Homo sapiens: one gene and its partners. The protein of the gene in region 2 purifies or fractionates together with the protein of the main gene of each other region. This does not show direct contact. Each region holds a gene or a part of one and is shown on either strand. Other genes may lie near its edges. The genes, in order: TRMT61B, NT5DC2 and SIRT4.

What was found.
Region 1: the proteins of NT5DC2 (region 2) and TRMT61B purify together in Homo sapiens (co-immunoprecipitation; one large-scale study listed by IntAct). This does not show direct contact.
Region 3: the proteins of NT5DC2 (region 2) and SIRT4 purify together in Homo sapiens (co-immunoprecipitation; one large-scale study listed by IntAct). This does not show direct contact.

What each region holds. Positions count from the first base shown.
Region 1 is NC_000002.12:28,863,717-28,867,364, forward strand, and holds part of TRMT61B (tRNA (adenine(58)-N(1))-methyltransferase, mitochondrial precursor), read right to left. Parts: intron 1,404-3,648; coding exon 1,301-1,403; intron 1-1,300.
Region 2 is NC_000003.12:52,523,840-52,527,473, forward strand, and holds the end of NT5DC2 (5'-nucleotidase domain-containing protein 2), read right to left. Parts: intron 3,537-3,634; coding exon 3,455-3,536; intron 1,457-3,454; coding exon 1,370-1,456; intron 1,265-1,369; coding exon 1,124-1,264; intron 1,043-1,123; coding exon 978-1,042; intron 893-977; coding exon 631-892; 3' UTR 548-630; downstream 1-547. Other genes in the region: STAB1 (stabilin-1), read left to right, coding at 32-178, 261-374, 461-517. UniProt on the Homo sapiens protein: Promotes dephosphorylation of tyrosine 3-monooxygenase TH which decreases TH catalytic activity and leads to reduced synthesis of catecholamines including dopamine, noradrenaline and adrenaline.
Region 3 is NC_000012.12:120,308,709-120,312,356, reverse strand, and holds part of SIRT4 (NAD-dependent protein lipoamidase sirtuin-4, mitochondrial), read right to left. Parts: intron 1-3,648. UniProt on the Homo sapiens protein: Acts as a NAD-dependent protein lipoamidase, biotinylase, deacetylase and ADP-ribosyl transferase. Catalyzes more efficiently removal of lipoyl- and biotinyl- than acetyl-lysine modifications.

The DNA of each region.
Region 1 (3,648 bases), on a different chromosome or scaffold from region 2:
TTGAGGAGCCCAGAATGAATTTACCGGCTTAGTATAATCTAGATAATATTCATATGTGAAGACATTAGGTCAAAGAACAAAAGGTGTGAGTTTAATTTCAGCATATTTCTATCTGTAATCTTTATAAAATCTACTCAAAGAAAGTACTGTGACTATTCAGCAGTCTAGTATTATGTAGGGAAGAGAACACTGCACAGACAGACCACCCAAAGCAACCCTGACACTCAGAGAAATTAGGTAGGCAAAGAGGTACTAATCAACTAGCATAAAAGTAACTAGAAATTAAGTGGTAGGAACATGAAAAAATATATATGTTTAATATACACCTCTTGATTTTTGATCAGACACCCACCTTCAAGCAGTACTTTTACCAACTGACAATTTTTAGAGACTTTCTGGAAAAAAAAAAGATAATTCTTCATGATCTAGCTTTTTACTTAATAGCTCTGTACTATGATTAATTTCTTTATGAACACCTACTATAATTCTTTGGCCCTAACGATATATAACTCTCCCCCCAACAGCTGACAACGTCCTTCCATATTCCCTCAGGCTAAGTATTCACCTGGCACTAGTATTCAACAATAACATGACAAGTACACAAGGAGGTTCCAAGCAGCACTATTTGTAATATCCAACTCAAATGTCTATCAACAGTAAAATAGGTAAATTGTGATTTAAATAGAGAGTATTATACAGCAACTAAAATGAAAGAACTACTGCTGCATGCAATGAGTGAATCTCACAAACATAATAATGAATGAGAGTAGCCAGATACAAAGGAGCACATACTGTATGATTCCATTTTATATAAGTTCGAAGGAGGCAAAACTAATCAGTGATGATAAAAGTCACAATAGTGGTTTCCTTTGGTGATGATAAGGACTGGGAGGGGACATGAGGAGGCATCTGTGGGGCAGGGACACTCCCTACCTTGATCTCGGTAATAAGTACATGAGTGGTCACTATACAAAGATTCATTGAGATATACACTTATGATCTGCACACTTTTCTGTAGCCATATTATATTCCAATAAAAAGTATACTTAAGAAAAAAGAAGCAGCATTAGAGAGCATGGAGAAAGTAAAACAAAGCAAAGAAAATTGAGGGAGGATTAGAAAGAGACTGACTGGAATAAATGTACAGAATGGAAAGAAAAATAGTTGCTTACTTTCAGATTCTAGGAGAATGCTACCTCAATGTTAGGTATTTTCCCAAATATCTTTATACCTTTCTGTTATTATGAACAAATTGAATGTTTTCTTTGTTACTGAGATCCAGCTCAGTCCAATCTCTTACCTGCTTTGGATAAAAATAAGCTCATTCCACCAGAGCCTGAGCCAGCTTCCAAAACAGTATCACCTGGGTTGATATCCATCATTGAGAGAATCATATTAATATCCTATGATTGAAAACAGTATGGGTGACTCAGCGACCAATAAATATGTACTAAGCACCTAGTCTTATCTTACATTGTTGGGTGTGCAGAAGAAGGGAGTGAAAAAACGAATCAGACTCTGGACCTGCCTTCAGTTTATATTTCACTTGATGAAATAAAAGAGATCCAAGAATCAATTAACAAATAAGGCAACACTTCAGAATAATACCAAAATTACAGACAATAAGTTCATAGAGTAGCAGGATGGCCTAGTTTAAAGACAAAGAGTAGACAATTTATGGGAACAATCACAAGGTAAAAACAGCTTTAAACAAAGCAGAGGTAGAATAAATCCAGTTTGTTATCTCAGGAGAGATAGGCAGAGAATTAAATGCCAGTATGAGGCATTAGAACTCAGCCTGATAAGCAACTAGGGTGTGTCACTGAGGTGATATAAATGGCATTTTATGAGGATTAATCTGGCAGAAGAATACAGGATCTACTGGAGAAAAATCAAGAGGCAGGAAGACCAGTTAGGAATTTACTATATAATCTCTGCATAAAATGATGAATTTCCTTTTTTTTTTTTTTTTTTTTTTTGGGAGACGAAGTCTCACTCTTGTCCCCCAGGCTGGAGTGTGATGGCACGATCTTGGCTCACTGCAACCTCCGCCTCCCGGGTTCAAGCGATTCTCCTGCCTCAGCCTCCCGAATAGCTGGGATTACAGGTGCCTGCCACCATGCCCGGCTAATTTTTGTATTTTTAGTGGAGATGGGGTTTCACCACGTTGGCCAGGCTGGTCTTGAACTCCTGACCTCAGGTGATCCGCTCGCCTCAGCCTCCCACAGTGCTGGGATTACAGGTGTGAGCCAGTGTGCCCAGCTCAAAATGATGAACTTCTTATTTTTGGGGGGACAGAGTCTCGCTCTGTCACCCAGGCTGGAGTGCAGTGGTACAATCTTGGCTCACTGCAAGCTCCGCCTCCTGGGTTCAAGCGATTCTCCTGCTTCAGCCTCCCAAGTAGCTGGGATTACAGGCACCCACCACCACACCCAGCTAATTTTTTGTATTTTTAGTAGAGATGGGGTTTCACCATGTTGGCCAGGCTGGTCTCAAACTCCTGATTTCAGGTGATCTGCCCGCCTCGGCCTCCTAAAGTGCTGGGATTACAGGTGTGAGCCAACGTGCCTGGCCAAATGATGAACTTCTAATTTAGAATTAAGATACTATATAACAGCGGTCCCCAACCTTTTGGGCACTAGGGACCCGTTTCGTGGAAGACAGTTTTTCCACAGACTGGGGAGAGGGGGATGGTTTTGGGATGAAATTGTTCCACCTCAGATCATCAGGCATTAGTTAGTTTCTTATAAGGAGCATGCAACCTAGATCTGGTGCATGCACAGTTCACAAGAGTTTGCACTCCTATGAGAATCTAATGCCATGGCTGATCTGACAAGAGATGGAGCTCAGGCAGTAATGCTCACTACCCACCGCTAACCTGCTGTGTGGCCCGGTTCCCTGTTACAGGCCACACACTGGTACCAGTCCTCAGCCTGGGGGTAGGGGAGCCCTGCTATATAAGAAAAAAAAGAGACTATGCTATTACTAGATTGGAGGACCCACTTGCCAAACATATAATTGGAATTGTTTTTGTTAACACAAATATTACGGATGATATTAATAAAAACTGTTTTTTTAAATTTAGTAAACAAATTTTCTTGGTGACAGGGTCTCTGTCACTCAGACTGGAGTGTAGTAGTGCAATAGTAGCTCACGGCAGCCTCGAACTTCTGGGCTCAAGCAATCCTCCTACCTCAGCCTCCAAAGTAGCTGGGACCACAGGCATGTACCACCATGCCCAACTAATTTTTTTTTTATTTTTTATAAAGATGGGGTCCTGCTATGTTGGCCAGGTTAGTCTTGAACTCCTAGCCTCCAGCAATCCTCCTGCCTTGGCCTCACAAAGCACTGAGATTACAGGTGTGAGTGACGGCACCTGCCCCCTCACTTTTTTTTTGAGATAGGATCTTACACTGTTGCCCAGGCTGGAGTGCAGTGGCAAGATCATGGCTCGCTGCAGCCTCAAACTCCTGGGCTCAAACAATCCTCCCATCTCAGCCTCCTGCGTAGCTGGGACCACAAGTGTGTGCCAGCATACCTGGCTAATTTTTTATTTTTTGTAGAGACAAGGTCTCCCTATGTTGCCCCGGCTGGTCTCAAACTTCTGGGCTCAAATGATCCTCCTGCCTCAGCCTCCCAAAATATTGA
Region 2 (3,634 bases):
CCAGGTCAACACTCTCCCTGTTTGTTTGTAGCAGGCAGTGCTGGCGCCTGAAGCCCCACCTGTGGCGGCAGGCGTGGGGGCTGTGCTTGCCGCTGGAGCACTGCTTGGCTTGGTGGCCGGAGCTCTCTACCTCCGTGCCCGAGGCAAGCCCATGGGCTTTGGCTTCTCTGCCTTCCAGGTAGGGCTGGGTTGGGGCTGCCATGGCGGGTCCTTGGATCTCGCTTGAGGCGCCTCGCCACTCACCCCTCTGCTGCTCCCAGGCGGAAGATGATGCTGATGACGACTTCTCACCGTGGCAAGAAGGGACCAACCCCACCCTGGTCTCTGTCCCCAACCCTGTCTTTGGCAGCGACACCTTTTGTGAACCCTTCGATGTAAGCATGGAAGTGAAGAAGTGTGGCAGATGTGGGATGGGCCCAGGCCCTGGTCACACCCTCCACCACCAACCCTGCTCTTCTAGGACTCACTGCTGGAGGAGGACTTCCCTGACACCCAGAGGATCCTCACAGTCAAGTGACGAGGCTGGGGCTGAAAGCAGAAGCATGCACAGGGAGGAGACCACTTTTATTGCTTGTCTGGGTGGATGGGGCAGGAGGGGCTGAGGGCCTGTCCCAGACAATAAAGGTGCCCTCAGCGGATGTGGGCCATGTCACCAAGGAAGGGGGTCTTCATGCAGCCGGTGCAGAGCTGGTCCATCCAGAGGGGTGCCTCGTGCTGCAGCGGCGTACGGCGTGGGTAGAAGGTGAAGTCCACGCGGTAGTTGAGCAGGCAGCTGAGGGAGGCCATGTAGAGGTCAGAGAAGCGCACGAGGCGCCTTGAGAAGTAGGTGGGGTTGTGGAAGGTGCGGAAGATGCTGCCGAACTGCGCATTGAACAGGGCCTTGGTGATGCACCTGGCGAGGGAGACACGATGCGCTCAAGGGGTGGGCCTGGGGTGGTGGCTTGGCTGGGACTCCTGCCCTGGCCCCACCTGCTCACCTCAGCTCCTGCCGCTCTTTCATCCAGGCAGCCAGCACCTGCCTCGACTCCGCGTCCTGATAGGTCTGGGGACACAAAGTGTGCATTGGGTGTGTGCACCCAGGAGGCTACCGCCCTGGCCCTCCCACAGCCACCCCGGCCCACACCTGCATGCGCTCCAGCAGCCCCGTGAGCGCCTGCTGCCACGTCAGCGAGTGCATGTACTGCTCCGTGTTGATGATGCGGATCTCACGCTCCAGCTCGGGGATGATGGCGCCTGTGCGCCAGCCGTGCCGCAGCATGAGATCCTGGTGGGTGGGGCGGCAGAACTGGGCTCAGCGCCAGTTGCTGGGGGCGGGGGGGGGGGGGTTTCCTGGCCCTCCCCCACTGCAGCCCAGCCCTGCCTCCCTCACCGCCAGATCACTATAGAGGTGGTCCCCGAAGTAGAGCACGCGGGGGCCACGCCATTCCGTCAAGCGTAAGAAGTCAAACAGGTTTCCCTAGGGAGAGGAGGGGAATGCTGCTGAGCCAAGTGTGCCTTGTCCTCCACCAGTCCTCCCTCCCGAATCCCCAGAGGCAGCCCAAATCCAGCCGGATGCTGGCTGCCCTTTCCCATGGCCTTGCTGCTCCCTCCCTGGGCCCTGGTTCTTGTCACTTTCCCCTCCTACTTGGGAAGGGGATTCTGCCTGCTGCAGGAAGGTGCCCTACAGGCCTGGCATGGTGCCCATGCCTCGAGGGCCTTCTCCCTGTGGTCTCACACGTACCCCAGGTTAGGGATTAGATCCCTGTTTGTAAGGTAGAAACTGCAGGGAAGGCTCTGCAGCCCTGAAGTCCTTGCTGGCCTCCCCTGCCTCAGTGCAGAGGGACCTGGCAGACCAATGGCAGACCTCACCGGGGCCACCAGCATCTTGGAGCCAGAGAAAGATGGAGACACTCAGCCAGGCCCACATGTAACTGGGGAAGCTCACAGGGTGGCAGAAACTGAGCGGCCCAGAGCAGGAATCACCAGACTAGTGCTCAGGCAGCAGCCACCAGGGTAGGAGTCCACACCCCAAAAGCGAGAATAATTGACACCCAGCAAGCACAGTTCTTGAAGCAGTCTGTGCATTCCAAGCCTCAGAAGTGGAAGCGCTGGGGGAAACAGGTGGTGTGGGAGAAGCCAATTGCTGAACTAAGTTCAAGTGGAGGGGCAGAGGCCCAGGCAGGCCCCAGACCAAGAGAAAGAGTCTCAAAGGGCAGGAGACTGACAGACTCCTAGTGACTGACAGGCAGGATCCAACACACAGTGGAAAGCAGCTTCAGAATACTGGGCATAAAGAACTGCCTGAAAGCTGCCAGGGAAGAAAGTCATGTGTTTCTCACAAAGGTGTATGACCCTCTTTAGCTGAGGCTGGATGCCAAGGCAGGGGAGAGCAGCGCCCTCAGAGCTGAAGGGACGCACCTGGGCCCGAGGGCTGTGGAGAGTTTGGGTGCGGAAGGGTGGGAGGCAGAGAAGTGGGCAGGGCTGAGAGGGTGGGGGTGTTTCCTGCAGGCCAGGCTGGGCATTGGCCACCTCCACATTGCTCCCCTGGCCAGCTGCTGGCTTCCCCCTCCTCCAGCCCCAAGGCCTTTAGAACCCCTAGCCTGAAGAAGCCCAGCTCAGCCAGGATTTCCGCATTCCAGCCAGGGCTAAACCTTAATCACTGCCTGCTCATAGACACCTAATCCCACCTCAACACCAGTCCCTCTCATTTTCCTAGCCAGGTAGGAAGGAGGAGTTTCTCTAGATCACCCAGTGAGCTGCCCCCAACCAGACTTGTTCTGGCTGCAGCAGAGTGCTCAACCCCAAGAAATGACACCATTCATCAGGCATTTCACGATCTCTGACCATTCTTGTTTTTTGAAGACAGGGTCTTGCATTGTTGCCCAGGCTAAAGTGCAGTGGTGTGATCACAGCTCACCACAGCCTCGAACTCCTGGGCTCAAGTGATCCTCCCACCTCAGCCTCTGGAGTAGCTGGGACCACAGGTGCATGCTACCATGCCCCGCTAATTTTTTCTATTTTTAGTAGAGATGGGGTTTCGCCATGTTGGCCAGGCTGGTCTCAAACTCCTGAGCTCAACAAACTATCCTGCAGCCTCAGCCTCCCAAACTGCTGGGATTATAGGCATGAGCCACGGTGCCTGGCGCACTGGCCATTCTGAGAGCTTTATACCACAGCTTCAGTAGAGAGTATTACACCTCTTTTGCAGACAAGGGAAGCAAGGCACAGAGGTCAGGCAACCAGGCCAGGCTCCCTCTGCTGAGTAGTGGAGTTAGGAATTCAAAGCCAGGCTGCTTGACCCAGAGGTCAAGCTCTCGAGGCCACCCAGACCTGCTCCCTGCCAGCCATTGCCTGTGTGAGGCTGCTCAGGGCCAAGGAGCTGTGCTGCTTCTTCAGAGGCTGCCTCTGCACAGCCTGGGGCCCTAGCTAGGCCCCATGCCCCCACCACATGCTGCTCTCCCCAGATGGCCCTTACCTGCCGATAGATCTTGCCCTTTTCCAAGCGGGTGATCCGGTCCCACTGAAGTGAGCCCTTCTCATCGAGTTTTCTGAAAGGCCTGGGGTGCAGGTAAAGGGCATGACTTCCAGTCTGTGGCTGGGCCACGGGCCGGGCAACCCCCATCCCTCCTCCGTAAAGGCCCACCTGCTCAAGTGG
Region 3 (3,648 bases), on a different chromosome or scaffold from region 2:
GCTTTCTTTCCCTAACACACAATCCCCACCCCATTTTAGCCATACTTTCTATTTTATTTTTTTTATTTTTGGAGACAGGGTCTGGCTGTTGCCCAGGCTGGAATGCAGTGGCACGATCTCAGCTCACTGCAGCCTCAACCTCCTGGGCTCAGGTTATCCTCCCACCTCATCCTCCTGAGTGGCAGGGACTGCACTACAAACACGCGCCATCTCGCCCAGCTAATTTTTGTAGTTTTGGTAGAGACGGTGTTTCACTGTGTCGCCCAGGCTGGTCTCAAACTCCTGGCCTCAAGTGATCCTCCCTCCTTGGCCTCCCAAAGTGCTGGGATTACAGGTGTGAGCCACTGCGCCCAGCCCATCAATTTCCTTCCTATACACTCCTTCCTAACCTTCTGCTATAGCTCACTTTTATCCTTAACATGACTGCAAATGCCTTGCCTGCTGATTTCCTTAATGCCCAAACCTGCGTTTTTCCCTCTATACTTTCCCTTGCTCATCTGCTGAATTTGCCACTGTCTATTACCATTCCTTCTAAAATGCTTCTCCTTCTTGGTTTCCAGGACACAGTGTCTCCTGGTTCTCTTCTCACCTCTTTTTTTTTTTTTTTTTTTTTTTTTTTTTGAGAGCAAGTTTCACTCTCATTGCCCAGGTTGGAGTGCAATGGCATGATCTTGGCTCACCGCAACCTCCACCTCCTGGTCTCAAGCGATTCTCCTGCCTCAGCCTCCTGAGTAGCCGGGATTACAGGCAGGCTCTACCACACCCGACTAATTTTTTTTGTATTTTTAGTAGAGACGGGGTTTCTCCATGTTGGTAAGGCTGGTCTCAAACTCCCGACCTCAGGTGATCCGCCTGCCTTGGCCTCCCAAAGTGCTGGGATTACAGGTGTGAGCCACTGCACCTGGCCCCCCTTCTCACCTCTCCAATCACCAGAGCTTGAGCCAGTGAGGGAGAGCACTTTGTGTCTGTTTTTATTTTTTTATTTTATTTTTTATTTTTTTGAGACGGAGTTTCACTCTTGTTGCCCAGGCTGGAGTGCAATGGCGCGATCTTGGCTCACCGCAACCTCTGCCTCCCAGGTTCAAGCAATTCTCCTGCCTCAGCCTCCCGAGTAGCTGGGATTACAGGCATGCACCACCACGCCCGGCTAATTTTGTATTTTTAGTAGAGACGGGGTTTCTCCATGTTGAGGCTGGTCTCGAACTCTTGACCTCAGGTGGTCTGCCCGCCTTGGCCTCCCAAAATGCTGGGATTACAGGCATGAGCCACTGCGCCCGGCCTATTTTTTTTTTTTTTTTTTTTTTTTTTAAGAGACAGGGTCAGGCTGGGCGTGGTGGCTCACGCCTGTAATCCCAACACTTTGGGAGGCCGAGGCGGGCGGATCACGAGGTCAGGAGATCGAGACCATCCTGGCTAACACGGTGAAACCCCATCTCTACTAAAAATACAAAAAATTAGCCGGCCGTGGTGGCGGGCGCCTGTAGTCCCAGCTACTCGGGAGGCTGAGGCAGGAGAATGGCGTGAACCCGGGAGGCGGAGCTTGCAGTGAGCCGAGATAGCACCACTGCACTCCAGCCTGGGCAACGAGCGAGACTCCGTCTCAAAAAAAAAAAAGAGACAGGGTCTTGGCCAGGCGTGGTGGCTCTTACCTGGAGTGCAGTGGCATGATCATAGCTCACTGCAGCCTCGAACTCCTAGGCTCAAGCAATCCTCCTGCCTTAGTCTTCCAAAGTGCTGGGACTACAGGTGTGAGCCACCACAACCAGCCTCATTTTTCTCCTTTTAGTTCTAGTCAGCCATCAGATTATGTTGATTTTCTTCTCTTAAAAGAACCCCTGTGGCCAGGCATGGTGGCTCACACCTTGTAATCCCAGCACTTTGGGAGCGTAAAGCAAGAGAATCGCTTGAGCTCAGGAGTTCCAGACCAGTCTGGGTAGACAGCAAGACGCTCTCTCTACAAAAAAAATTTTTTTGGCTTGTCTTTGTTTTTTGAGACGGGGTCTTGCTCTGTCGCCCAGGCTGGAGTGCAATGGCGCGATCTCGGCTCACTGCAACCTCCGCCTCCTGGGCTTAAGCGATTCTCCTGCCTCAGCCTCCCGAGCAGCTGGGATTACAGGCGCCTGCCACCACGCCCAGCTAATTTTTGTGATCTGCCCACCTCGGCCTCCCAAAGTGCTGAGACTACAGACGTGAGCCACCACGCCTAGCCAAAAAAAATTTTTTAATTAGCTGGAGTTCTAATTACCCAGGAGTTCTAGGTTACAGGGAGTTATGATGGCACCATTGCACTCTAGCCTGGGTGTCAGAACCAGACCCTGTCTAAAAAAGAAAAAAAGGCCAGGCCGGGCACGGTGACTCACACCTGTAATCCCAGCAATTTGGGAGGCCAAGATGGGTGGATCAGTTGAGGTCAGGAGTTTGAGACCCGCCTGGCCAACATGGTGATACCCTGTCTCTACAAAAATACAAAAAAATTAGCCGGGTGTGGTGGTGCACACCTGTAATTCCAGCTACTCAGGAGGTTGAGACAGGAGAATTGCTTGAACCCAGGATGTAGAGGTTACAGTGAGCCAAGATCATGCCATTGTACTCCAGCCTAGGTGACAGAGCAAGACTTCATCTCAAAAAAAAAAAAAAAAAAAGAAAGCGGGCACAGTGGCTCATGCCTGTAATCCCAGCACTTTGGGAGGCCAAGGCAGGCAGATCACCTGAGGTCAGGAGTTTGAGACCAGCCTGGCCCAACACGGTGAAACCCAGTCTCTACCAAAAATACAAAAATTAGCCGGGCATGGTGGTGCATGCCTGTAATCCCAGCTACTCAGGAGGCTGAGGCAGGAGAATCGGTTGAACCCGGGAGGTGGAGGTTGCAGTGAGCCAAGATCTCACCACTGCTCTCCAGCCTAGGCGACAGAGTGAGACTCTGTCTCAAAAAAAAAAAAAAAAGAAAAGAAAAAAAGGCCCCTGTGAAATGTCAAGAAGTCCTGGATTGTTTTAAAATGCTTAAGAAGAGACAGAATGGATAAAGTAGACATGACAAAATCTTGATAAAACCTTGGAATCTGGGTGATGGTATATGAGAATTCATTATACAATTCTCTTTACTTTTGTGAAGTTTGAAATTTTCATTATTAAAAGAACAGATTTTCTTCATGAAAAAAATTGTGAGTTTTTTTTGAGACAGAGTTTCACTCTTGTCGCCCAGGCTGGAGGGCAATGGCACAACAGTCTTGGCTCACCGCAACCTCCGCCTCCCAGGTTCAAGCGATTCTCCTGCCTCAGCCTCCCGAGTAGCTGGGATTACAGGCATGTGCCACCATGCCCGGCTAATTTTTTGTTGTTCTTGTACTTTTAGTAGTGACAGGGTTTCTCCATGTTGGTCAGGCTGGTCTTGACTCCCGACCTCAGGTTATCCACCCGCTTCGGCATCCCAAAGTGCTGAGATGACAGGCATGAGCCACCACGCCCGGCGGAAAAAATTGTTTTAATGAATCCATAAGCATCATTAACTCAAATTCCCTGGATACCACCTTAGTCTAGGTCTTTCAGGCTGACCTCCCTGACCTGCTCTTTTTAATCCTGTTTAGCCTTCCTCAAATGCTATTTTTATCATGTTGCTTGCTTGCTCAGAAACCACTAATAAACCCCTTT